Homo sapiens: one gene and its partners. The protein of the gene in region 1 purifies or fractionates together with the protein of each later gene. This does not show direct contact. Each region holds a gene or a part of one and is shown on either strand. Other genes may lie near its edges.

What was found.
Region 2: the proteins of NPHP4 (region 1) and AHDC1 purify together in Homo sapiens (co-immunoprecipitation; one large-scale study listed by IntAct). This does not show direct contact.
Region 3: the proteins of NPHP4 (region 1) and ARHGAP32 purify together in Homo sapiens (co-immunoprecipitation; one large-scale study listed by IntAct). This does not show direct contact.
Region 4: the proteins of NPHP4 (region 1) and NEK4 purify together in Homo sapiens (affinity purification with mass spectrometry, with the first as the bait; one large-scale study listed by BioGRID). This does not show direct contact.
Region 5: the proteins of NPHP4 (region 1) and ECT2 purify together in Homo sapiens (affinity purification with mass spectrometry, with the first as the bait; one large-scale study listed by BioGRID). This does not show direct contact.
Region 6: the proteins of NPHP4 (region 1) and PFKP purify together in Homo sapiens (co-immunoprecipitation; one large-scale study listed by IntAct). This does not show direct contact.
Region 7: the proteins of NPHP4 (region 1) and SEC16A purify together in Homo sapiens (co-immunoprecipitation; one large-scale study listed by IntAct). This does not show direct contact.

Annotation. Positions count from the first base shown.
Region 1 is NC_000001.11:5,870,426-5,873,925, reverse strand, and holds part of NPHP4 (nephrocystin-4), read left to right. Parts: intron 1-590; coding exon 591-674; intron 675-3,500. UniProt on the Homo sapiens protein: Involved in the organization of apical junctions; the function is proposed to implicate a NPHP1-4-8 module. Does not seem to be strictly required for ciliogenesis. Required for building functional cilia.
Region 2 is NC_000001.11:27,597,645-27,601,144, forward strand, and holds part of AHDC1 (transcription factor Gibbin), read right to left. Parts: intron 1-3,500. UniProt on the Homo sapiens protein: Transcription factor required for the proper patterning of the epidermis, which plays a key role in early epithelial morphogenesis. Directly binds promoter and enhancer regions and acts by maintaining local enhancer-promoter chromatin architecture.
Region 3 is NC_000011.10:128,979,326-128,982,825, reverse strand, and holds part of ARHGAP32 (rho GTPase-activating protein 32), read left to right. Parts: intron 1-889; coding exon 890-997; intron 998-1,264; coding exon 1,265-1,410; intron 1,411-2,077; coding exon 2,078-2,273; intron 2,274-2,970; coding exon of another isoform or gene 2,971-2,977; exon of another isoform or gene 2,978-3,500. UniProt on the Homo sapiens protein: GTPase-activating protein (GAP) promoting GTP hydrolysis on RHOA, CDC42 and RAC1 small GTPases. May be involved in the differentiation of neuronal cells during the formation of neurite extensions.
Region 4 is NC_000003.12:52,746,941-52,750,440, forward strand, and holds part of NEK4 (serine/threonine-protein kinase Nek4), read right to left. Parts: intron 2,890-3,500; coding exon 2,752-2,889; intron 1-2,751. UniProt on the Homo sapiens protein: Protein kinase that seems to act exclusively upon threonine residues. Required for normal entry into proliferative arrest after a limited number of cell divisions, also called replicative senescence.
Region 5 is NC_000003.12:172,806,226-172,809,725, forward strand, and holds part of ECT2 (protein ECT2), read left to right. Parts: intron 1-1,544; coding exon 1,545-1,699; intron 1,700-3,500. UniProt on the Homo sapiens protein: Guanine nucleotide exchange factor (GEF) that catalyzes the exchange of GDP for GTP. Promotes guanine nucleotide exchange on the Rho family members of small GTPases, like RHOA, RHOC, RAC1 and CDC42.
Region 6 is NC_000010.11:3,102,048-3,105,547, forward strand, and holds part of PFKP (ATP-dependent 6-phosphofructokinase, platelet type), read left to right. Parts: intron 1-1,731; coding exon 1,732-1,897; intron 1,898-2,561; exon of another isoform or gene 2,562-3,067; coding exon 3,068-3,112; intron 3,113-3,345; coding exon 3,346-3,454; intron 3,455-3,500. UniProt on the Homo sapiens protein: Catalyzes the phosphorylation of D-fructose 6-phosphate to fructose 1,6-bisphosphate by ATP, the first committing step of glycolysis.
Region 7 is NC_000009.12:136,442,323-136,445,040, forward strand, and holds part of SEC16A (protein transport protein Sec16A), read right to left. Parts: intron 1,579-2,718; coding exon 1,501-1,578; intron 1-1,500. UniProt on the Homo sapiens protein: Acts as a molecular scaffold that plays a key role in the organization of the endoplasmic reticulum exit sites (ERES), also known as transitional endoplasmic reticulum (tER).

The DNA of each region.
Region 1 (3,500 bases):
GCACGCGTGCAGGAGTTGTGCGTGTAGGGGTCTGTGAGATGTGCAGGGAGTGTGTGAGGTGTGTGCAGACATGCAGTTGTGTGTGTGCAGGGAGTATGTGAGGTGTGTGTGCAGGTGTGCACTTGTGTGCAGGGGGTGGTGTGTGAGGTGTGCCTGCAGGGGGTGTGTCATGCCCGGGTGCGTGAGGCCGGCATGGGGTGTGGAGTGTGTGTTTCAGCTTTTGACCTTTTGGGGTCAGCTCTCTAGGGTGGTGGTCATCGCTTAAGGTGGACTTGAGATGTCCCTAGAGGCTCACTCACAGGATGCCATGCTGGCTCTTGGGATGGGCTGTGAGGACTGCAGGTGGGACCTCAGGCCTTTGGCTTCAGGCAGAGCCGGGTTTCCACCTGGGATCTGCTGTTCCCTTTGTTCCTGGCAGCCTCAGCCTTCTCTGGCACAGTGAGGCCGGTTGGTGATGGTTGCTGCCTGGAGAGTCAGTGTGAGAGGAGGCTGGTGGCTCCCAGCTGGGTGGCAGTGGTGTCTCTAAGCACAGGTGCTGGTCGCCTAATGGTGTTGCTTCCTGACCTGCTTGTGCTGTTCGGTTCCTGCAGGCCTCTCCTGGGTTGAGCAACGAGAAGGGCATGGACGCCGTGTCACCTTGGAAGTCCAGCGCAGTGCCCACTAAACACGCCAAGGTAAAGGGGCAACGGAGGACAAACTGATCTCGGGGCTTCCTGGGTATTCCCAGGGCCTGACCCTTGTGTCCTTCTCTCCCCTCCTGGAGGGGAGGGCTGGGGCCAGGTCAGGGCAGGGGTGGCGTGGGCCTGGGAATGGCCTTTTCCGTGTCCTCGCTGGGCAGGGCAGCTCCGTCTGGGCGCTGGCACAGCCTGCATGGTATCTGGTCGGAAATGCCTCCTTGGTGGCCGCCTTCTCACAGCCCAGGGCTCTCCGGGTGTGAAGCCGCAGTTCCCGTGGTGGCTGCCACAGCCTGCGGCCACTCCTTGAGCCTCACGCAGAGCATTCCCTGGTGTGTGAGTGTGTGGTGTGGTTCTTCCTGGAAATAAGACGTAGTCCTTGGTTACGTCCCTTGCTAAGCGAAGGCCGTATAGTAAGGCACCTGCTTCTCAACAGCTGGCTGAGACATTCTCAGGAGGAGCTTGAGACACTGCTGCTTTATGGCAGTTTCTGAAGGTTGTTTTTTATTCGGTAGAAACATGCCTTTTGTAGTAGTTGGGAAGTGAAAAACAAAATTAAAAAGCTTTGGTCTTTCTTACACATTGCCTGGAGGACAGAATTCAGAGTTCAGCGCAGTCCTGTGAGGCTGTGGCGTTCCCGTGGCCCGGGTCTCACTGTGGTTGCAGCCTGGCCCTCTGTGTCCACCGGGCCCCATCACCAGTGAAAACTTGCTTTATTTTATTTAAGTGTGCAGCCACAGCTTTGCCTTGATCTAAGGAATGTATCTGATCTTTATTGAGTGCTCTAGGTTAACGCTTTTTCCTTACATGAGTGGGAAGTCCCAGCCATCGCGTCCTGTTGCCAAAACCGTTGGGAGGAAGGTTTTCCTCTGCTAGCTCAGGTCTGAATGGTAAGGGCTGCAGGTGGATGACCGTAGACAGAGGGACAGCAGCAAAGACGGGCCTTACCGTTGTGAGCCCGTGGCAGCATTGGGAAGTGAGTAGCTTGCCAAATGCCCAGAGGTCGAGGTTTCTGTGCCAATGTAGCACAAAGGGGGCGAGGGCCAGGGCCTCCGTGGGAAGACGGGGACATTCTGTTGTCTCTTTATGCTGTGAGCATGGCCAGTCTGTGACCTTCCTGGAATTTGCAGGATGCTTTCACTTACACTTTCACATAGGGGTTTAATGGCAGCTGCACTTTCAGGTGGCTGTGCACTAGTCAGATAAGGAAAGTTCAGGTAAGATTTCTTTTCACCTTAAAATAATCTTTACGTCAGAAATATGATCTCTTCACATGAATTTGGAGTTTGAAGGGAAATCCTAGACACTGTGTTAGTTTACCCATAATTACTGCAGTGTGTATCTCTGACTGATAAGGACTTTTCTTTTTATCATGACTGCATGCTGTTGTTGCTGCCCCCAGTCAACGCAGACCTCGGCATCGTCTGCTGGGGCTGTAACCACGGGCCTTTCTACCACTGGTGCGTTTGGATCAGGACCCGCTGTCCTGGGGTGCTCCGCCTCTGGAGTTGCTCAGTGGGCAGACCACGTTGTCCATGAAGGCCACCCACAGAGGCCATGCTGGCTGTCACCGTGCTCAGGTGCTGATGGCCTGATGCCATCACCCGTGTCTCCCTCACTCGCATCCAGCTGAGGCTCCTGGCCCACTGCGTGTTCCATCCAGGGTGGAAAATGGTGAAATTGCAGTCCTGTCATTCTTCCTGTGATCTTTCTACAAACAAGGACTTTCCCGATCAGCAGTTTGGTTACCCTAAAATATACTTTGTACTTGAAAGTGAGGATGAATGTTAGAATCATTCCCTTTATCAATTTTCAAATAAATGAGCTGCGTCCTAGCAGCCTCCAGAGACAGTCCATGTTTGCGGCGTCTCATGATGGACACCGAGGCGTTATATTTGTATTTCTCATCCCATGGAGGCACCGCTCTTAGACGCTGGAACTGCCCTCTCTCAGGCCACCGCCATCCTTTTCAAGTTAACTCCTGTGCCTTTTTTAAATAACAAGTAGTTATTTTGAAATAATTTAGAACTTAGGGAAGAGTTACAGGAAGAGTGCAGAGTCCCCACATAGGGTTTTCCCAGACTTCCCGGTCACTAACCTTTGCCATGTTTGCCTCGCCACTCTCTGTTTGTGCATTTTTCTTGAACAATTTGAGAATAAATTATCAGGTAATGCCCTTTACTCCATGACACTTCGAGCTGGGTTATCTTGAAAATAAGGCCACTGTCCTCTGTGGTCAAAGGAGAGCCATGAAAATTAGGGAACTGACGCTCCTCTTCTGTCATCACAGGCCCCATTCACATTCACAAATGTCCCAGCACTTGATAGATGGCCCGTCCAGTGGCCCCCACCAGCCTGCTGCCCATGGAGTCCTTCTGGCGTGGCTGCAGCTGTTGTGAAGTGCACAGGCGGTTATCCTGCAGGGCGTGCCCAGTGGGGCTGGTCTGGTGTTCGTTTCAGTTAGACCCAGGTTATGCACTTGGGGCAGGACCTCCACAGACATTTGCCGTGTCCTCTACGAACATCATACTGTGAGGGACACCGTGTTGCTTTGTCCTGTTACTGGCGATGTTACTGTTTTCATTCAGTTAAGATGACATCTGCCATGCTTTTTTCCTGTAATATCAGGAAATGTCTAGTAATTAGAAAGTCATGAGTAAGTATCTTGTTGGGAGATACTGAGGCCGTTCAAATACCCTATTCTTCATCAGACTTTGACGCACTAGGTGTCAGTGTGCACTGATGACCTGGCCCGAGTTGGTTGGTAGTGGGATGCTTGCCTGCCATGGATTTTCCAATTCCATCATTCCTTCTCTGTTGATTACT
Region 2 (3,500 bases), about 22 Mb from region 1:
CCGGGGGTGGAAGGAATGGAGACTTGGCTGGCCTGGGGGTTTGGGGAGGGAAGAGGGAGAAAACACCTTCCAGATTCTCATCAAATCCCTGTTTGTGGTTTGCAGCCTGCAGTCTTCTCCCTCCCTCTCCCTCCCTCTCTCTGTCTGTCTGGGTTTCCCCCTTTCTTTATCTCTTCCTGTCTCTCAGCCTCCCCATCTCTCTCCTTCTCCATCTCAGTCACTCTGTCTCCTTTCTTTTCTCTAAGTCTCTGTCTTCCATTTTTCTGCCTCCTCCTCTCTCTGCCAGCACCTCTGTCTGTCCGTCTCTCCCTGTCCCAGTCCATCTGTCCGTCTCTCTCCGTCTGTCTGTGTGTGGGTGTCTCTGTCCATCTGTTTCACCACCCATCTGTCTGGCTGTCTGTGTTAGTCCTTCCAAGGGTGCCCACTCGCTCCCCAAGGCACCCTCCCCCAGGTCAGCAAGGCCTCTCCTGGCTCAGGGGGTGGGGAGGGGGTGCAGAGCTGCAGCTTCTGGAAGCTTCAGTGGCAGCTGGGCTGAATTGGGAGTTCGGGGCCAGCCAGCTGCAGAAGCAGCCCCTCCCCTGGGCTCCCAGGCCAAGGACCCCAGAGCAGAAGAGGAGAGAAAACAGGGCCTCATTGCAGTTGGGTTTGTGTGTGTGGTGGAGGGGGCTGGAAGGGGGCTGGAGGGAGGCAGGGCCTCACTTTACTCTCACTTCACCATTGCCCCCGGAGCCAGGCCCTGCAGGAGAGGGATCCTTGATGCCCACCTTCCTCATCCCCTGGCCAATGGAAGAGATGCTGGGATCCAGGAGGGAGGGGCCAGGAGAGGCCAGGCCTTGGGCGAAGGAGGGGCTGGGAGCCAGGGCTTCCTGTCAGCTGGGCTGGAGGGGGGCTCCTTCCCTCCTCCTTTCCAGGCAGTCCCTGGGGACCCCTCCTGCTCTGGTCCCAGTTCCAGGCATGAGGGGTTGTTCTTGCCAACTGCACTGGGGCCATTCCCACCTCCATCTACCCATAGGGACGTGGGGGGATCACACCAGTGTCACCCCCACAACAGTGGAGGCTGGTTTTGGCCATGTAGTGACCCTGGCCCTGTCTAGGCACTGGCCATCCTGAATCTAGCACCTCACACACAAATATATACAGTGCATCCCAGTGCTCACCGCCTGCCCAAGCCCCCCAACACCAGCATCCACCGTCATGACATGAACGCAGAGACCAGCACCCTACCTTGCACTGGTGACAGCGCCCCCGTCACAAAGCCAGCAGCTTCAGACAGCATCCCTTAACATTCTCCCTGGCTACTCTGTCCCTGTCCCCCACTCCCTCTCCAATAGCTCACAGTCCAAATCCCACAATGGATGGGGAAACTGAGGCCCAAGAGGAAGGGATGGGAGGACACAGTCATCCCTCCTGAGACCCTGGGGTAGGATCATAAATGAGGAAAGAAGAAAGAGATGCTGCAGGGGCAGAATCAGGCTCCTTCCTGACCTACCATGGGTAAAGTCCATATTGGCTACACCCTCCACACAGCCCTACCACAGGGCCAGGGCCAGGGCCAGGGCCAGGGGCTGGCTCCCTCCCTCTCGAGCTCTCCTTGCCCCTGGTTGGGCCCCCTCCCTCTCCTCCCTTCTGAGCAGCCCTCCCTGCCCTCTCCCTCCCAGCTCTGGCTCTCTCATCCTCAGCTCTTGGAAGCCTGACTCACTGTTTCCCCTCCTCTCTCGCCTCCCTCCCTCTCTCTCCCGGCAGCAGCGGCGCCTCCCCCTCCCCTGGGGGGGCTCTGGCCACAAGGGTGCCTGCCTGCTTCTCTCCCCAGGCTCCGGCCCCCTCCACTCCCAGGAGGCCCCCTGCAGCTGTTCCAATTCTCTAACTACAGTGAGGTGGAGTGCAAACAGCCCAGGTCCCAGCCTGGTCTTGCCAAAGGTATCTGTGACCCTGAGCAAGTGGCTCCTCTCCCTAGACTTGGCTTTCTCTCGTCAAACAAGTGGGGGGCGTCCAACTGGATGATGCTCCTGGCACCTCTGGGACCCTAATGTTTCCCGCTTTTATAACCTGGGTGTCTTTTGGCACAGAGCACCTGACAACCTGTAGGGTGCAGTACCTGCCACAGGCCACGCCCCCCCGGGTCCCAAGAAAAGCTCAGCTCTGTTCCAGGCATTTGGGGAGGGCAGAAGGGAGATGCTACCCTGGGACCTGAAACATTTGTTGAAAACCCTGGAATCTGTCTCCCCATTCTCCCTCCTCCTGTGAGAGTCTCTCTCTCTCTCCCACCTGTCCTCCTCCCTCTTCCCAAACATCTGCTTGTCTCTCCTCCAAAAACAACCCCAGAATCTGATCTTGGGTGAGAGGACCTCAGGGCTGCCTCCTCTCTGGCTCCAGGGAGGGGAGTGGTATATTCCTAGGCCTTCTTGGTCCCCGGCCCCCACCTCCAGGGGCTGTAATTCCAGATTTTCTTGCCTGTTTTCTCTTTCACTCTCATCACTGGCTTTGGTCTCCATCTTTCTCTCTCTTCACCATGCATGTGGTTGTGGGTCGCTCCCCCGCCCCCCTCCCTGGGGGGGGCCCATCTGCAGGCATTAGCAACAATGTTACCCTTGCTTCCTCCCATAGTCCCCAGCTCCACTCCATCCTGGCTTCCGCCTCCCCACTCTGTCCCAAGAGACCCAGGGGACCCAGAGACAGAGCTGGGCTCCATCCCATAATAGTGAGTCTGCTTGACCTCACCAAGCCAGACCAGAAGGGCCTGGGCATCTGGTACACAGGCATGGCACCCCCTGGTCTTGGGTGGCTGGCATGAGACACAGAGCTCTGTGTTCTACAAACCAAAAAAAAAAAACAAAAAAAATTGAAATTGACCTGGGGGTGGGACAGAAGAGGGGAAGGGGGAAATGAGGGAGATCAGGTTTGCCTGGAGGAAGCCCCTGTCCAATGGGGAACAGAAGCATAGAGGTGGGAGTGGTTCAAAGTCAGTGCTCCAGGCTGATTGGAGAACAACAATGTCCCTCTGGGGCTCTGCCAGTCCAGAACAGCTCCCCCTACCCAAATGTCTTCTGCCAGGGGCAGTCTGCCCCTCAAGCCTCCAGCACAACCACAGCAATCAGGTGGAGACCCCATCTTTTAACCTTTTGAATCCAAGTCCAACTTCCCTACTGTACACCTCCACTTAGCTCAGCAGGGGGTTCCAGAAGCCTCCCAGCCCAGATCTAAGCCCATGCAGTGGGGGTAACAAAGTCCCCCAGCTCCCAAACCCCTTCCCCAAAGGCCCCATCAAGGGCTGGGGAGCAATGCAAAATAACCCCAGAACCCTCACGCATTGAAACTGAGAAGCTATGCTGTCCCACAGCGCCTGAGGGTGGTAGGGGCTCCCTGCCCCCACGACCCTGTTCCAGACCCCCCAGCCCAGCAACAATAATAAACAGCAAGCTCTTTTTCTTTATGACACCAAATTTCTCCAAGCCCAACAGCTCCTTCCATCACTACCTCAGCCATAGATCACATTAAAAACT
Region 3 (3,500 bases), on another chromosome or scaffold:
TCAACCTTCCTGGGCTGAAGCAATCCTCCTGCCTCAGCCTCCCGAGTAGCTGGCACTACAGGCATGCACCACCACACCCAGCTAATTGTTTTTACACTTTTTGTAGAGATGGGGTTTCACTGTGTTGCCCAGGCTGGTCTTGAACTCTCGAGTTCAAGTGATCTGCCTGCCTCAGCCTCCCAGACTGCTGAGATTACAGGCAATAGCCATCACACCCAGCCCGTTGTCTTTAGTAGTTTTACTCTGGGCACTATTAGGTAGGACGCTTTGAGACATGCTAGGTGATAGATAATACCTCTGTGTGTGCATGCGCACAGACACACACACACACACACACACACACACACACACGGCACTTACCTGGTTTAACTTACATTTAAGGTGATCATGTCTTGTTTTCAAAAGTACTCTTCCCTATTGTTTAATCACAATATATGTGGAATTGTTTAAGTAAAGCAAATTTTAAGTAGTCAAGATAAACCAGAATATGAGGATTTGAATTAGGCTCTTTATTTCAAAAGCATATCCTTTGCTCAAATATTCTCCCCTTGATGCCTATTGGAATTTTTCTTGTAACTGTTTTAAGGCTTTTGAGACATTACTGTTTTCTTTCATAGAAGTGTTGAAATCCTTTCCTGTTAGTATGTCTGCTGCAAGTAGAATGGCATAACTTCAAAATATTATTTGTTCCAGAAACTAGCTTTGGTGGAAGATTCACTTCTAATAGTAATATTTCAACCTGTTAAGCAGGAAAAAAAAGTTCTCTTGGGTTTGTATGGTCCCTTTCTTCATTTTGCTATTGCAAACTTAGGAATTAATTAGCAGGCTTTTATGTTCTATACTGCTGCATCATGTTTCTTTCTGTTAATATGTTGTATTTTATTTCCAGAACACTGGAGTTCCTGATGAGACACTTGTCTCTTCTAGCTGACTATTGTTCCATCACAAATATGCATGCAAAAAATCTAGCAATTGTTTGGGCTCCAAACCTGTTAAGGTAATTTGCATTTCACTTATTAATTTTAGTAGAACTAATCCTAAATAAAAGGCTGATTCATCAGTGTTCTTTAAGGAAACTTTTAAAAGATTAAACAAATCTGTTCTTTTTATTTGCATCTCCCTAAAACAGGCAACTGGGCCTTAGCTAAGGGACAGTAAAAGTATGATTTCTTCCTCTGTTTGTCTGAGATTTACACGTTTAAAAAAAGAGGCCCTTGACGACTGCTATCTTTACAACTCTGTGATGAAAATGTTTACCTCACAGATCAAAACAGATAGAATCTGCCTGCTTCAGTGGAACAGCAGCTTTCATGGAAGTGAGGATTCAGTCTGTGGTTGTTGAGTTCATCCTGAATCACGTTGATGTGCTGTTCAGCGGCAGAATCAGCATGGCCATGCAAGAGGGGGCAGGTACGGCTCCGATGGCCCTTCCTACCAGGAGGGTGTGTCTCAGCTTCCAGAGGAGTAGCAAACCATGCATTTCTTATTGCAACAACAAAAACGTGTCACTGGTATAAGGCAGCTAATAATGTATGGCTGCTTACCAAAATGCACAATTTGACAGTTATTTTGTGTGTATATAGTGAATACTACATATGAGACCTATTGTGATCTAAGTTCATGACACATTAAAAAACTTGTCGTTCATTATTGATGTGTATTAAAGTATAAAGTGGAACAGAAGAAGAAAAATTGCTTCCAAAACTAAAAATATCTGAGTGATTGATCACCTTTCCTCATATCTTTTAAGAAAGGAAAACAGTTATTAAAGAGTTTTATATGTGTGTATGTGTGCCACTGGTGTATCCCCTTCAGTTTTTTATTTAATATAAAGCTTTTCTCATATCTTTTAAGAAAGGAAAACAGTTATTAAAGGGTTTTATATGTATGTATGTGTGCCACTGGTATGTCCCCTTCAGTTTTTCATTTAATATAAAGCACTATGGTTTTTGCTATTTAACATACTTGAAGAAAATTTGAAACAACAGATAGGTAGATAGATGGAGAGATAGATACTAACAAATTGAATACACTCACGTAGTTGACTCTCTTCATCAGCTTCCTTTTCTTTTTGAAGCTTCTCTATCAAGGCCCAAGTCCCTCCTGGTATCCTCTCCATCCACCAAACTGCTGACATTGGAAGAGGCCCAGGCACGAACACAAGCTCAGGTCAATTCTCCAATTGTGACGGAAAATAAATATATCGAAGTAGGAGAAGGACCTGCTGCACTTCAGGGGAAATTTCATACCATAATTGAGTTCCCACTTGAAAGGTAAAATTTGTTAAATCCTATTTTGGGATATGATTTTCATAGCTATGTCCTATTATTTTCTTTTAGTTTGCTTTTAATTTTGTATTTTAGTATTACTCTATTGAATTCTAGGCTAGTCCCAGAGAAACCTGTTTATTCGAATATGGATGATACTTACCGCTTCATGGGGAATGATGCAAATGATTCTTGCTTTACAATGTCATGTAATTTTATAAAAGAAGAACATCAGTGGTATAGGGAAAATTGTTTGGAAAAATAAGGATATACTGTCACTATATGGGTTGATTTTGCTCTCTGAACTATGTTGTTTATAAAGTTGTTTAGAAATAAGCTGTGTTGGAAGAGTTTGTTCAGAAAGTCAGGAATGGACAGTGACTTGTTTGACATTGGTTTCACATTAAGGTTAGAAGAGATTAATAGTGTGGTCTCCCAGCCAACAGCATCAGCATCACCTGGTGATAATTGCTAGAAGTGCACATTGTGCAGTCGTCCAGTCACACCCCAGACCCGCTGAATCAGAAACCCTGGGCGTGGGACCCAGCAACTGGTCATTCATCTAACTTTCCAGGTGATTCTGATGTCTGCTAGGACTTGAGAACCACTGCAGCAGTTCACTCTTTCAATGTCCCTTCCAGCTCTGAAATTCTATTACTCTAAAGAAATGATAATAACATGGTTTCTGTATCTTCTTTACTAGGTTATAGTAGGAAGACTAATGTATGTAAAAGTTATTTTTGATGTCTCTGCTACTCCTTTGGCTATTACACATGAATGTAAGGATTTTGATTCTCTGGATTGGGTAGTACTAATATAACTTTAGAATTTGTTCTTCCCGTATTTTAGTATACTCCTCTAACTTCCTTTCACTTCCTGTGACTAAAAACATTCTATCAGCAAAAAGTTGGAACATACTCTTACTTTGTCATCCTGAGTTTGTCTTTAGCATCTTGATTTTATATTCTAGTTCCATAATTTACTCAAAGATTTATTTATGGAGTAGTAGTTAAGAGAGTAGATACTGGGATGTAGATTGGCCTGGGTTCCAATTCTGACTCCATCATTTAATAGTTTTATAATGTTAAAGAAGTTATTTGAACTTCTTAGTGTCATAATTTCCTTGGCTGCAAAATGAGAATAATAGTACTTACCTCATGTGGTTGTATCTGATTTAAAGGAGATATTACATATAAGGCAGGTAGCACAGTGCCTGGCATTCAGTATATGTTT
Region 4 (3,500 bases), on another chromosome or scaffold:
GCAACCTGGTACATTGTAATCCAAAGTAAGTTGTCCATAAAAAGTGGCTTTTGTTTTTTAGCATGAAAACTTTCCTCAGTTTTAAAAACTGGTTTCCATATTGCAATTTAGTGTTACATGGAAGTTCTAAAATGACCCATCACAATGTAAAGTTCACAATATGGTTCAAATATAACAATGCAGAATTGAATATAGAGGTATACATAACCTTCCTCTTAGAAAACAAAAGAAGCGGGCCAGGCATGGTGGCTTGTGCCTGTAATCCCAGCACTTTGGGAGGCTGAGGCAGGCAGATCACAAGGTCAGGAGTTCGAGACCAGCCTGGCCAACATCGTGAAACCCCCGTCTCTACAAAAATACAAAAATTAGCTGGGCATGGTGGCACGCACCTGTAATCCCAGCTACTCAGAAGGCTGAGGTAGAAGAATTGCTTGAACCCGGGAGGGGGAGGCTGCAGTAAGCTGAGATCGCACCACTGCACTCCAGCCTGGGCAACAGAGTGAGACTCCATCTCAAAAAAAAAAAAAAAGAAAAGAAAAGAAAAGCAGTTGCAATTTCAAATTTTTGTGCAATGAAATTAAATCATAATGCAACAGTTAAAAAATAATGATTATAAAATGAAGCAAACACACACAAAAACACAAAATAATGAAGTCTTTTGAACATCCAAATGGCCAAACGCTCCATGCCTACTTTTAAAATTGTAAATGAAAATGAGAAGAAGCTGAGTGTGGTAGCCCACACCTGTAATCCCAACACTCTGGGAAGCCAAGTCAGGAAGACCACTGGAGGCCACGAGTTCAAGACCAGTCTGAGCAACAGAGTGAGACCTCCATCTCCATTTAAAAAAAAAAAAAAAGTCAGATGTAGTGATATGCCAGGTAGTCACAGCTACCCAGGAGGCTGAGGTAAGAGGATTGTATGAGTCCAGGAGGTCAAGGCTACCATGAGCTGTGATCATGCCACTGTCCTCTAGCCTGGGTGACACAGCAAGAGTGTCTCAAAAAAAAAAATTATTATTTTATTTAATTTTTTTTGAGACAGAGTCTCGCTCTGTCGCCCAGGCTGGAGTGCAATGGCGCGATCTCGGCTCACTGCAAGCTCCTCCTCCTGGGTTCACGCCATTCTCCTGCCTCAGCCTCCCGAGTAGCTGGGACTACAGGTGGCCGCCACCACGCCCAGCTAATTTTTTTTTTTTTTGTATTTTTAGTAGAGACGGCGTTTCACTGTGTTAGCCAGGATGGTCTCGATCTCCTGACCTCATGATCCGCCCGCCTCGGCCTCCCAAAGTGCTGGAATTACAGGTGTGAGCCACTGTGCCTGGCCAAAATTTTTTAATAAATTAAAAAGAAAATGAGAAGTTGTCTTTCTCAAAATGAATGTTTATTTGCAGTGTTGACAGGCAAAGACAAAATGCCGACATCAGTTATCCAAATGTTCTGATTTTTTTCTCTTCCTCCAAATAAAAATAATTGTTTTAATTCAATCACTTAAATTGTGGTTAATCTGAAACTACTGATGTTTGATTCAATTATTTTTAAAAATCTCCTCATAACTTTTCATAGGTTTTCCATTCTGAAAATGAACCAATGTTTTAAATGAATTCCAATTTAATACAAATTTATTTCCCAAGTAAACATCAGTTATTTGGATGTACCCTAAAAAGCACAATAAAAAGACCATTGAGCTTGGCATTAGATGCAGTCTTATGTGAGAAACTTAATTTCCCTGAGCCCAGTTTCATCATTTAAAAATGGATCTAATACCCACAGCCATATTGTATTACTATTTCAGGATTAGCTGAAAGAATACACTAAAAGTACTTAGGACTATGTCTGATGCATATTAATTAGATGCTCAGCCAGGCACAGGTGGCTCACACCCGTAATCACAGCACTTTGGAGGCCAAGGTGGGAGGATGATTTGAGCCCAGCCAGGAGTTTGAGACCAGCCTAGACAACATAGGGACACCCTGTCCCTACAAAAAATAGAAAAAATTAGCCAGGCGTGCTGGCGTATGCCTGTAGTCCCAGCTACTCGAGAGGGTAAGATTGGAGGATCACTTGAGCCTAGGAGGTGGAGGCTGCAGTGAGCTGAGATCACATCACTGCACTCCAGCCTTAGCAACAGAGCAAGGCCTTGCAGAAGGGGAAGAGGGGAGGGGAGGGGAGGATGGGAGACAATATTTTATTTTCCTTTTTTGTTTTTTTGAGATGGAGTCTTGCTCTGTCACCCAGGCTGGAGTGCACTGGGTCAATCTCAGCTCACTACAACCTCTGCCTCCCAGGTTCAAGCGATTCTCCTGCCTCAGCGTCCTGAGTAGCTGGAATTACAGGCTCGTGCCACCATGCCCAGCTAATTTTTGTATTTTTAGTAGAAACAGGGTTTCACCATGTTGGCCAGGCTGGTCTTGAACTCCTGACCTCAAGGGATCCTCCTGCCTCGGCCTCCCAAAGTGCTGGGATTACAGGCGTGAGCCACCATTCCTGGACGGGAGACAATATTTTCAAATGCTGTATCTAATAAGTAACTGGTATCTAGAATAAAGAATTCAAATAGATTATTTCTCCAAAGGAGAAATACTGGCCAAAGTATATAAAAAGATGCTCAAGGCTGGGCACGGTGGCTCACACCTGTAATCCCAGCACTTTGGGAGGTCGAGGCAGGCTGATCACTTGAGGTCAGAAGTTCGTGACCAGCCTGACCAACATGGTAAAACCCCATCTCTGCTAGAAAAACTGCAAAAATTACCTGGGCGTGGTGGCACACGCCTGTAATCCCAGCTACTCGGGAGGCTGAGGCTGGAGAATCACTTGAACCCAGGAGGCGGAGGTTGCTGTGAGCCAAGATTGTGCCACTGCACTCCAGCTTGGGCGACAGGGCAAGACTCTGTCTCAAAAAAAAAGAAAAAGAAAAACATGTTCAACATCATTGGTCATTAGGGAGATGCAAATCACAACCACTTCATACCTACTAGGATGACTATGTTCAAAACAATGAACAGTAACGAGTGTTAGCATGGATGCAGATAAACTGGAACCCTCATATATTGCTGGCAGAAATAAAATTATATGGTTGTTTTGGAAAACAATTTTGCAGTTTCTCAAAAAGTTTAATACATAGAGTTACCATATGACCCAGGAATTCTACCCCTAGGTACATACTCAACAGAACTGAAAATATATGTCCACACAGAAACTTGTATGCAAGTGTTCATAGCCGCATTATCCACATATAACCTTCCTCTTAGAAAACAAAAGTACCTAAAAAGTAGAAACAACCCAAATGTACATCAACTGATGAATGGATGAATAAAATATATATAGGCTGGGTGTGGTGGCTCACACCTGTAATCCCAGCACTTTGGGAGGCCAAGGCAGGCGATTCACTTGAGGTCAGGAGTTTGAGACCAGTCTGGCCAACATGGTGAAACCCCATCTCTACTAAAAATACTAAAATCAGCTGGGCATGGTGGTATGCACTTGCAATCCCAGGTACTT
Region 5 (3,500 bases), on another chromosome or scaffold:
ACCCCTCATCTTAACACTTTCACTGTTGGCCAACAGTTGCATTTTTAGGGCTATGTTTAAGGTACGGGTCAGGAATAGATGTGGGTGCAATAAATAAACTCAGAGTAACTGGTAGACTTGATATGGAGTCATATGTGTATTAAGGAATGTTTTACTCTAAACTTTGGTAGTGTTACAGAGCAGGTTCTCTGAAGGCCTGAAATTGCTGAAAATTTATACCTACCTACAACAGTGTCATCTGTTTAATTGACACCCAGTGGTGTATGTGCATGGCCATATTTTGGATGTTAGGCATATGTTTTTACAATATTTAGCTCTTTCCATTACTGATTCCTCTAATAATGAAAGGTTTCAGTTTGTGAGAAATTATTCTTTTTTTTTTTTTTTTCCTTTATAAGAAATGATTCTTTCTTTGTTTTTTGTGGGTTTTTTTTTTTTTTTTTTTGAGATGACGTCTTAGTCTGTCACCCAAGCTGGAGTGCAGTGGCGCAAACTTGGTTCACTGCAGCTCCCGCCAGGATTCTCCTGCCTCAGCCTCCTGAGTAGCTGGGATTACAGGCGTGTGTTGTCATGCCTGGCTAATTTTTTTGTATTTTTAGTAGAGACGGGGTTTCACCATGTTGGCCGGGCTGGTCTTGAACTCCTGACCTCAAGTGATCCACCCACTTCGGCCTCCCAAAGTGCTGGGATTACAGGTATGAGCCACTGCACCCCGCCAAGAAATGATTCTTAAAGAAAACTTGAACAGCAACTTCCTGCTCTTTTCACTTAGTTGACAAATTCTGGATTTATTAAAGGTTACATAGTATAGTTGTCCCTTGGTATCCACGGGGGACGGTTCCTGGACCTCCCTTGGTTACCAAAATCTGGGATGCTCAAGTCCTGGATGTAAAATTGCATAGTGTTTGCATGTAACCTATACACATCTTCCTATGTACTGTAAGTCATTTCTAGGTTACTTATAGTACCTACACAGTGTAAATGCTGTGTAAACAGTTGTTATACTATATTGTTTAGGGAATGATGACAAGAATAAAAAGTCTGTACATTTTCAATACAGATACAATCTGTTTTCTACTGTTTTTTTCTACTATTTTCGGTCAGCAGTTGATTGAATCCACAGATGCAGACCCACAGATACGGAAGGCTGACTATATATTTGTTTTAAAAATCTTCATTTTTGGATTTTAATTATGGCAGACTTTGTTTAAAATAGGTTGTATTTTAGCATCTTGATCGTGCAACTTTTGTAACACTTAATATTTTTATCATAGAAAATATTAAATGACATGGATAATACTGTTTACTTAATGTCATTAACTTATCATCATCATTAGTTCCTTACGTGGTATACTATATTGTGTTTTCAGTACTTCAACTTAATATGGTGATGTTCTTTGTCTTATTAAAAATAGGACAAGGAAAGTGGAGAAGTGATAGTTCATTTCATTGGAATTTCATTGCTCTGAGGGAACTAAACTTGCATACATCTGTCATTTTCCAAGGAGTGACACTTAATGTTTATGGTTATTCTGGAACCCTAGATTGCCATAATGCTTTTGCCTTGCTTGTGAGGCCACCAACAGAGCAGGCAAATGTGCTACTCAGTTTCCAGATGACATCAGATGAACTTCCAAAAGAAAACTGGCTAAAGATGCTGTGTCGACATGTAGCTAACACCATTTGTAAAGCAGATGCTGTAAGTTCTTAAAACAGTATTATAATGAAAGTTTAAATTTCATGACAGTGCATTCAGACTAAACCTGTACATTTTTAATGACTTGTTTATTATGAATGGAGAGTTTTAGTTTTGTGTATATTAAAAAAACTGATGTAATAAGTTGTTTTAGAAAATATTTTATATAGTGTAGGTACACAAAATATTATTTGAGTTCTTGGCTTACATAAGGTAGGCCCTCATAGTCTTATAGCCCCTGTGGCTCTGATTCAGTGAAGATTTTGGGACTTCTTGTAATGTACCCTGTGATTTTTCATTGATACTCTTAGACATGGCTAAAAATTAGAGAGTATTTAGAGATGGGGTTTCACTGTGTTGCCCAGGCTGGTCTTGAACTCTTGAGCTCAGGCAGTCTGCCCACCTTGGCCTCCCAAAATGCTAGGATTACAGGCGTGAGCCACCGTGCCTGGCCAAAAAAAAAAAAAAATCTTATTGAAAGCAAGTTGAAAATGAAAGTTGCCAATCTATTTTTCTCATGTGAACCTCTTAAAAATGAAATGCTATCATAAATATATAATTATCATTATACTATACAGATTAAAGTGAAAATAGATGAGAGAATCAAAATAGGGAAGTTAAATGACTTGCCTGAAATCAGGTATCCCTGGATGAAATCCAGGTCCCTAAAAGATAATTTGATTTCTTCCTCTCTATATATGAGAGAGACACATGTGATAGACAGATATAGACCTCTTACTCTTTGCACAAATGACATAGATTGAAGAGAATATATGGATATAATAGATGACCCTTTTCGGTACAATGGTACTGTAACTGAGATTGCATTGGGTGTTTCTGTGGGAATGAAACATGTAATTACAGTTAAGTGTGAAACCTTGGAAGACATTTAGGTTTAATGTGGTTTATAAAGTAAGTATTCATTGATGAAAACCTCCTTCCAAAGTATTTAGAACAATAATCAGACTTTTTGTTTGTGTGTGTGTGTGTTTAGATTTCTATGGACCAATAATATGTTCTTATAAATAAAAAATTGTTGCACAAAAGATTCAGAGAGGGAAATACAATGCTAACAAATACAATAGAATGCTAGCTAGAAAAATGATGGAGACCACTTTTGTTATAAATCTTTCAAAACTGCTCATTGTAAGGTTTTTTTTTGTAGGTATCCATCCACTTTTTCTAGGTATCCATATATAAAATGGTTTTATCTGTAGAAGTTCCTTAATGCAGAAATTACTCCTGCTCTTATCAGAATGTCAGACTAGATAGTTTATAGAGTCCTTTCCAAACTTATAACCCTAATACTGAAATGAAACATTAACAGAAAATTTTTCTTATAATCTATTGAATTACTAGCCACATGATGGCTAATAGTACTAGAACTGAAATATAATAACATATGGAAGAAATTCATAAGTAAAATTAGCCACAAGATGGCAGCAAACGTTTAACTATGTTCTGACTTATCCTTACACTACAAAATTCTTTCAATCTATTGAAATTTTGTTCTTAAGAAATACGTTTGTAAATTCAGGTACTCGGTGACTTTGGTTGAGCCCTTTCCTGCGTTTAAAGTTCTACATATAGTAAATGTTTATAAAGCCCTGAGAATTTTTCCTGTGAAGATAATGTGTGTGTATATCTACACACACACACACACACACACACACACACGCACACACACACGTGAAAGATGTAAAAAGATATAAAAATCTCTGATTCTTTGAATTAGTAATTTTTGTTTTTGGTACCCTGTATATATATAATTTTTTGGTACCCTAAGTAACCTGAGCTTTCTTAA
Region 6 (3,500 bases), on another chromosome or scaffold:
GAGACCATCCCGGCTAAAACGGTGAAACCCCGTCTCTACTAAAAATACAAAAAATTAGCCGGGCGTAGTGGCGGGCGCCTGTAGTCCCAGCTACTTGGGAGGCTGAGGCAGGAGAATGGCGTGAACCCGGGAGGCGGAGCTTGCAGTGAGCCGAGGTCCCGCCACTGCACTCCAGCCTGGGCGACAGAGCGAGACTCTGTCTCAAAAAAAAAAAAAAAAAAAAAAACTGAAGTTGCCACAGGACTTTAATTTATTTAGACGATAAATCTCTGCCAATACATCATCCAGTACCAACTTTGGCACTACTTAGGAAAGCGTTTCTGAGAGCCCTGTGTGTATGTGGTTTATTTTTGTTTTGTTTGATTGTTTGATTTTGTTTGTTTTGAGACAGAGTCTTTCTCCATTGCCCAGGCTGGAGTGCAGTGGCACGATCTCGGCTCACTGCAACATCTGCCTCCTGGGTTCAAGCAATTCTCCTGCCTCAGCCTCCCAAGCAGCTGGGATTACAGGCATGCGCCACCACACCCAGCTTTTTTAAAATTTTTTTATTTATTTTTTATTTTTAGTAGAGATAGGGTTTCGCCATGTTGGCCAGGCTGGTCTCGAACTCCTGACCTCAGGTCATCCACCCGCTTCGGCCTCCCAAAGTGTAGTTTTTCTCCCTTGAAGCGGTTATGTAATTTCAGTGCAATATTAAATATGACCAGGGAAGCATATTGTTTAACAGCAACTCGATGAGAGGCGGCATTGAGGCAAAGCAGCTGTCCCCAGGTTTGTGAACATCCTCGTAGGGGATGGAGAAGGCTGCCCGTTGGAAGCAGCCAGGCCTCACGGTTCCCGCTTGTCCACCTCATCCCGTCTGGCACAGCACAGTGAGTGCACAGACCGGGACAGTGGCCACAAGTCCGGGCCCAAGCTTGCCCCTGGCCCTTCAGTGGTTCCGATTCCCTTTATGCAGAACTGCCCAGCCCAGGTCTGTCCTGAGTGCGAGGCAGATGCTCACCCACGATCCAGCTTCCCACAGATGCATGAGAAATCAGTGTGAAGATGGCCTAGTGTCTTAGATTCTTAATTCCGTAATTGTAACGTATCCTGTTCAAAGCCGTGTCATTCTCTGAAGCTGTTGCCAGGAAGTACTGAGATGTTTGTTTACCGATTGCAAATGTGGATCCTTTCTTTTATTTTTCTAATCCACTGCTCTTGTCTAAGTGCCAGGTGACAGAGTCCATTGTGTGTAACTGCTGCCAGCTTTGTCTGGCTTCTCTTTCCTTAACTATGCAGAATCCGGTTGCCTTGAGTTCGGAGAAAATAAAGAATCGGCCAGGGCAGTGGCTCACACCTATAATCCCAGCACTTTGGAAGGCCAAGGCAGAAGGACCACTTGAGCCCAGGAATTTAAGACCCGCCTGGGCAACATAGAGTGTGGGTCTACAAAAAAAATTAAGAAATCAGCCAGGCATAGTTCTAGCTTCTCAGGAGACTGAGGCAGAAGGATCGCCTGAGCCCAGGAGTTCAAGGCTGCAGTGGGCTATGATGGTGCCACTGCACTCCAGCCTGGTCAACAGTGAGACCCTGTCTCAGAAAAATGATAATAAAGAAATGATACCAATAACAAAGAGTTTAGAATGGTTGATTTCTCTACCCATGGCCATTCTGCCTCACCCCTAGTGGGGCACCCCCCGAACGCGCCATGGTTACGGCGATGAGACGTGCTGTTTGCTCCCCGCGCAGGCCAGATCGATAAGGAGGCCGTGCAGAAGTACGCCTACCTCAACGTGGTGGGCATGGTGGGCTCCATCGACAATGATTTCTGCGGCACCGACATGACCATCGGCACGGACTCCGCCCTGCACAGGATCATCGAGGTCGTCGACGCCATCATGACCACGGCCCAGAGGTAAAGCGCTCAGAGGAACCGGCGGGAGGCCAGTGGGGCCCGACGTGTGCCCAGCTCAGACGTTACCACGGGCTCTAGAACATTCTGCAGATTGGGTGTCCTGGTGCTGGTCTCGTAACTTGACTTTTAGGAGCTATTGCCAGAACATTGTTCTCTGGTCTACTTTTCATTTTTAATTTTAAAACATTCCTTGTTTTTAACCTGATGATAGAAAACAGTTTATTAGAATTTGGAAGGAAGAAACAAAGTAATTATCCTCTAAATGTCCTACCCAAACATCTCCAGAAGGAGTGGCAAGCAGGAAACTGTTGTGTGGATTTTCCACACTACTCATTAGAAACGCAGCCAGCGATGTCCTGCCCTGTGTAACCTACGGATTCACGAAGTGTCGTGGGGGCCACAGCGTTTGATCCGAGGTGCTCTAGGCTCAGCAGGTTATCACTAAAGACTGTGGGGCGCACCGTACAATTTCTGAAGCAATTTGCATGAAAACCATGTGGAATGGTAAATAGAATAAGTGTCTCCCCTTTAAGGACGAGGTGCTCGAGACTGGGAGAGTGCCCGAATCCAGTCCCCAGCATGGCGCCTCCCAGTCCTCTGTGTGCGTGTCCTGTTCCCAGTGACGCCTCACTGGACATTCTCAGTGCGTGGGCGTGAACCCCACAGTTGGTGGAAAATCACCGAGTTGGAAGGCTGCTCGGAGCAGTTGGATTTTTCCATTCCCTGGGAAGACCCACAGTCTCTGGGCATTAAGCACTTAGTGAGTCTGGCACTCACTTGTTTCCGTGGGAGAGATCCAGCCGTGGCTGTCGACAGCAGCTGCCGACTGTGCCCAATAGAGAAGGTATCTGGGAAAGAGCCCAGCACGGGGCCGGGGAGTGTGAGTGTGTCCTGGCACAGGCAGGCAGAAGGTGTCCAACGTGCAACTGGAGAGCGCAGAGGTGGCTCAAGTCCCCTTCCTCGCAGGAGTCTGGAAGGCTACTGCATAGCGTTTGCCTTAGTAGAAAATGGACCATTTTTGAAGCCTAGGTCCCTGCAGGCCTCCTGGCTAACTCGGCTGTCAAAGCCCCTTTTCTCTGCTTTCTGAGCTGTTTCCAGGACTGAGTGGGTGCTCCCTCTGTTTCTCTGCTTTCTGAGCTGTGTCCGGGGCTCCCTCTGTTTCTCTTCCAGCCACCAGAGGACCTTCGTTCTGGAGGTGATGGGACGACACTGTGGGTACGTACCTGCGGTGGGTCCGGTGGACGCGGTTCAGGTGGGGGACCCTCAGCATCATCTCCCTGAGGCTGCACCCCACATCCTGAATGCTCCCGTGGAAAGTCCTGAAGGGGCCGGCATCCCGCTTCATACCTGGCGTTAGGTCTGCACGTCTGTCGCTGAGCGGGGTGCCTGGGCTGCCCTCGTGGGAAGGATCCTTCTGGGGTGTTGATGCTGTTGCCTTGTCCACATAGGTACCTGGCCCTGGTGAGTGCCTTGGCCTGCGGTGCGGACTGGGTGTTCCTTCCAGAATCTCCACCAGAGGAAGGCTGGGAGGAGCAGATGTGTGTCAAACTCTCGGAGGTAATGCGGGTCCCGTGGCCGTTGATAGCGGGCGATGCTGGCTGCA
Region 7 (2,718 bases), on another chromosome or scaffold:
CTGGATGCTGAAAAGCAGGTGACAGCCAGGGGCCAGCTTGGGGGCAGTGGTCCTGGGAGCCTCGGCCTCGTTTGTAGAGGACCAGGGCAGGAGTGCTGGGCCCCAGCCCAGGAAGCCTGCAGTCAAGAGTGTGTGAGGCTGTGAGGGCAGGCTGGGGTGACAATGGGGCTGAATCCCAAGAGGCCCCAGACCTTGGACCCCGCTCAGCTCCCCTACACTGGCAGCCAGTCTATACTCCACAGGCAAGGGAGAGGGGAGGAGAGACGAGGCTGAGGGAGGGAAACCACAGGAAACATTCTAGAACACTCCCCAGCTGAAGGGCATGCAGTCAGGCCCAAGGGGGCTGAGGGTGAAGCCCTCCAGGTCCCAGGGAAACGGACCCTGAAAGGGGCTGCAGGCAGAACGGCCCTGGGGTCTCAGCAACCACAGGCAGCAGGAAACCTAAGGCCACTTGCAGTTCTGAAGAAAGTGACTTTGGCCCAAGAATTCTACCAGCCAGCCAGATAGGCCGGAGGAGAAAGGCAGCTCCAGACGTGAAAGGCATCTCCCAAGTCACCCTGGGACCTTTCTGTCAAGAAGCTATTAGGAAAAAGAAATAAAAAACATACAAAAAAAGCAAGAGCTACCAGAGGATGTGTGTCACCAAGACAAACAGAGTAACTAAGAAAGGCAGCAACATAGGATTCCAAAGCTGGGGGACCCACTCCGGGGAGACCCGGGTGCCCGGGCCAAGGGAGGAGAGATCACGCTCGGCTCAGAGACCACGGGCTCCAGGAGAACAGAATAGCAGACGTGGCAGAGCTGGGGGCTGAATGAGGGATACACAAGTAGAAAGCCAAGCACATTTTACAAACTACAACCTAGGAAAAGGCAAAGCGAATACAGGAGCACGGAGGGCCTCGTGTCGACAGAGCTCCACACGGGAGCACGGCGGGCCTGGTGTCCACGCAGAGCTGAGCACGGTGGGCCTGGTGTCCACACAAAGGGAGAAATGGCAGCCGGGGAGGGCCCAGCCTGGCTCCTCACAGTGCCCTGTGGACTGCCACCCAGTAGGTGTGCAACTTTCATTCAGAAAAGAGAAGCTGGGCACGGTGGCTCAAGCCTGTAATCCCAGTGCCTTGGGAAGCCGAGGTGGGAAGATCGCTTGAGCCTAGTAGTTCAAGACCAGCCTAGGCAACAAGGTGAGACCGTCTCTACAAAACATAAAAAATTTGCCAGGTGTGCTGACCATGCCTGTAGTCCCAGCTACTCAGGAGGCTGAGGCAGGAGGATTGCTTCAGCCCAGGAAGTTATGGCTGCAGTGAGCTGAGATCAGAGATCGCACCACTGCACTCCAGCCTGGGCAACAGAGCAAGACCCTGTCTCAATAAATAAATAAATATATTTTTTAAAAAGAAAGAAAAAGAGGATCTAGGGCAGAAAGCTGCCATCACTGAGCAGCAGGGTCAGGTCGTCAGTGGGCGTGTTAGGGTCTCGTAGGGAAAGGTAGGAGTCACTCACCTGTGCCAGCTGAGCAGGGTTGTAGAAGGGCATGGCCCCGCTGGGAGGGCCCCCTGCAGCAGGGAGGTCGCCAGGAGCCTGAGAAGCACAGAGAAGTCACCTCAGCAGGGCTGCGCTGCACAGCAGCTGTCACTTCAAGTGCAGATACAGACACCGCTTCTGGGTGGGATTTACAGTACTTTTACATAAGCTACAGAAGCAGATCCAAGACACTTCTTGCAACACTGGATTTAGTTATTTAATGGTTCAGAGAAAAATGGTGAAAATCAAAGCAACGTGCAGAGCCAATGTTTTAAGCACCGGAACATGCAATGGGAAGGTGCACACAGCACTGAGGTGGCACCGAGCGTGCGAGGTGGTGAGGAGGTGCCCACGGCTGCAGCTCTAAGGCTCCAGCCATGACACGAGGCCCAGGGCTCTCATTTGCAGGCGGAAGGGTCGCTGCAAGCCTTTCTGCTGAGCCACGGCTGCAGCTGGTGCCTGGACAGGCAGAAGATGAAGCGTTCGTTCACCTCCCTCCCACATTGGCCGCAGGTCACTGCTGCACCCGCCCCGGCCTCAAACCAACGTTCTCATGCTTGATCAGAAAGGAGCAATCTTCCTTCCAAAGGAGAGCATCCTGACCGGGGAAACACTCACTCGGCGAGGCCACGACCCAGGCCCGTCATTGGAAAAACCAATTTGGAAAGAGCAAAATGACAGAACCCACTCATTGACTAGGACACCTCAGGGTCGATCCAGTTGCCCCATGTATGTGGAGACTGAACAGCAAAACCCCCTTTAAGGCCATTTAAAGGAACACTGCTGTAATCTCAGCACTTTGGGAGGCTGAGGCGGGCGGATCACCTGAGGTTGGGACCAGCCTGACCAACATGGAGAAACCCCGTCTCTACTAAAAATACAAAATTAGCTGGGCGTGGTGGCTCATGCCTGTAATCCCAGCTACTCAGGAAGGCCGAGACAGGAGGATGGCTTGAACCCAGGAGGTGGAGGTGGCGGTGAGCTGAGATCACACCATTGCATTCCAGCCTGGGCAACAAGAGCGAAACTCCGTCTCAAAAAAAAAAAAAAAAAAAAAAGGAACCCTGTACCCTTGGTCACGTGACGCTGAGGGAGACAACGGGCGAGGTTAGTGGCAAAGCGCACGTGGCGAACCGGCACCGCGTGCTCAGGAACACAGGCGGCACACGCCAGCTCTCATGTTAGTGAGGACCACCA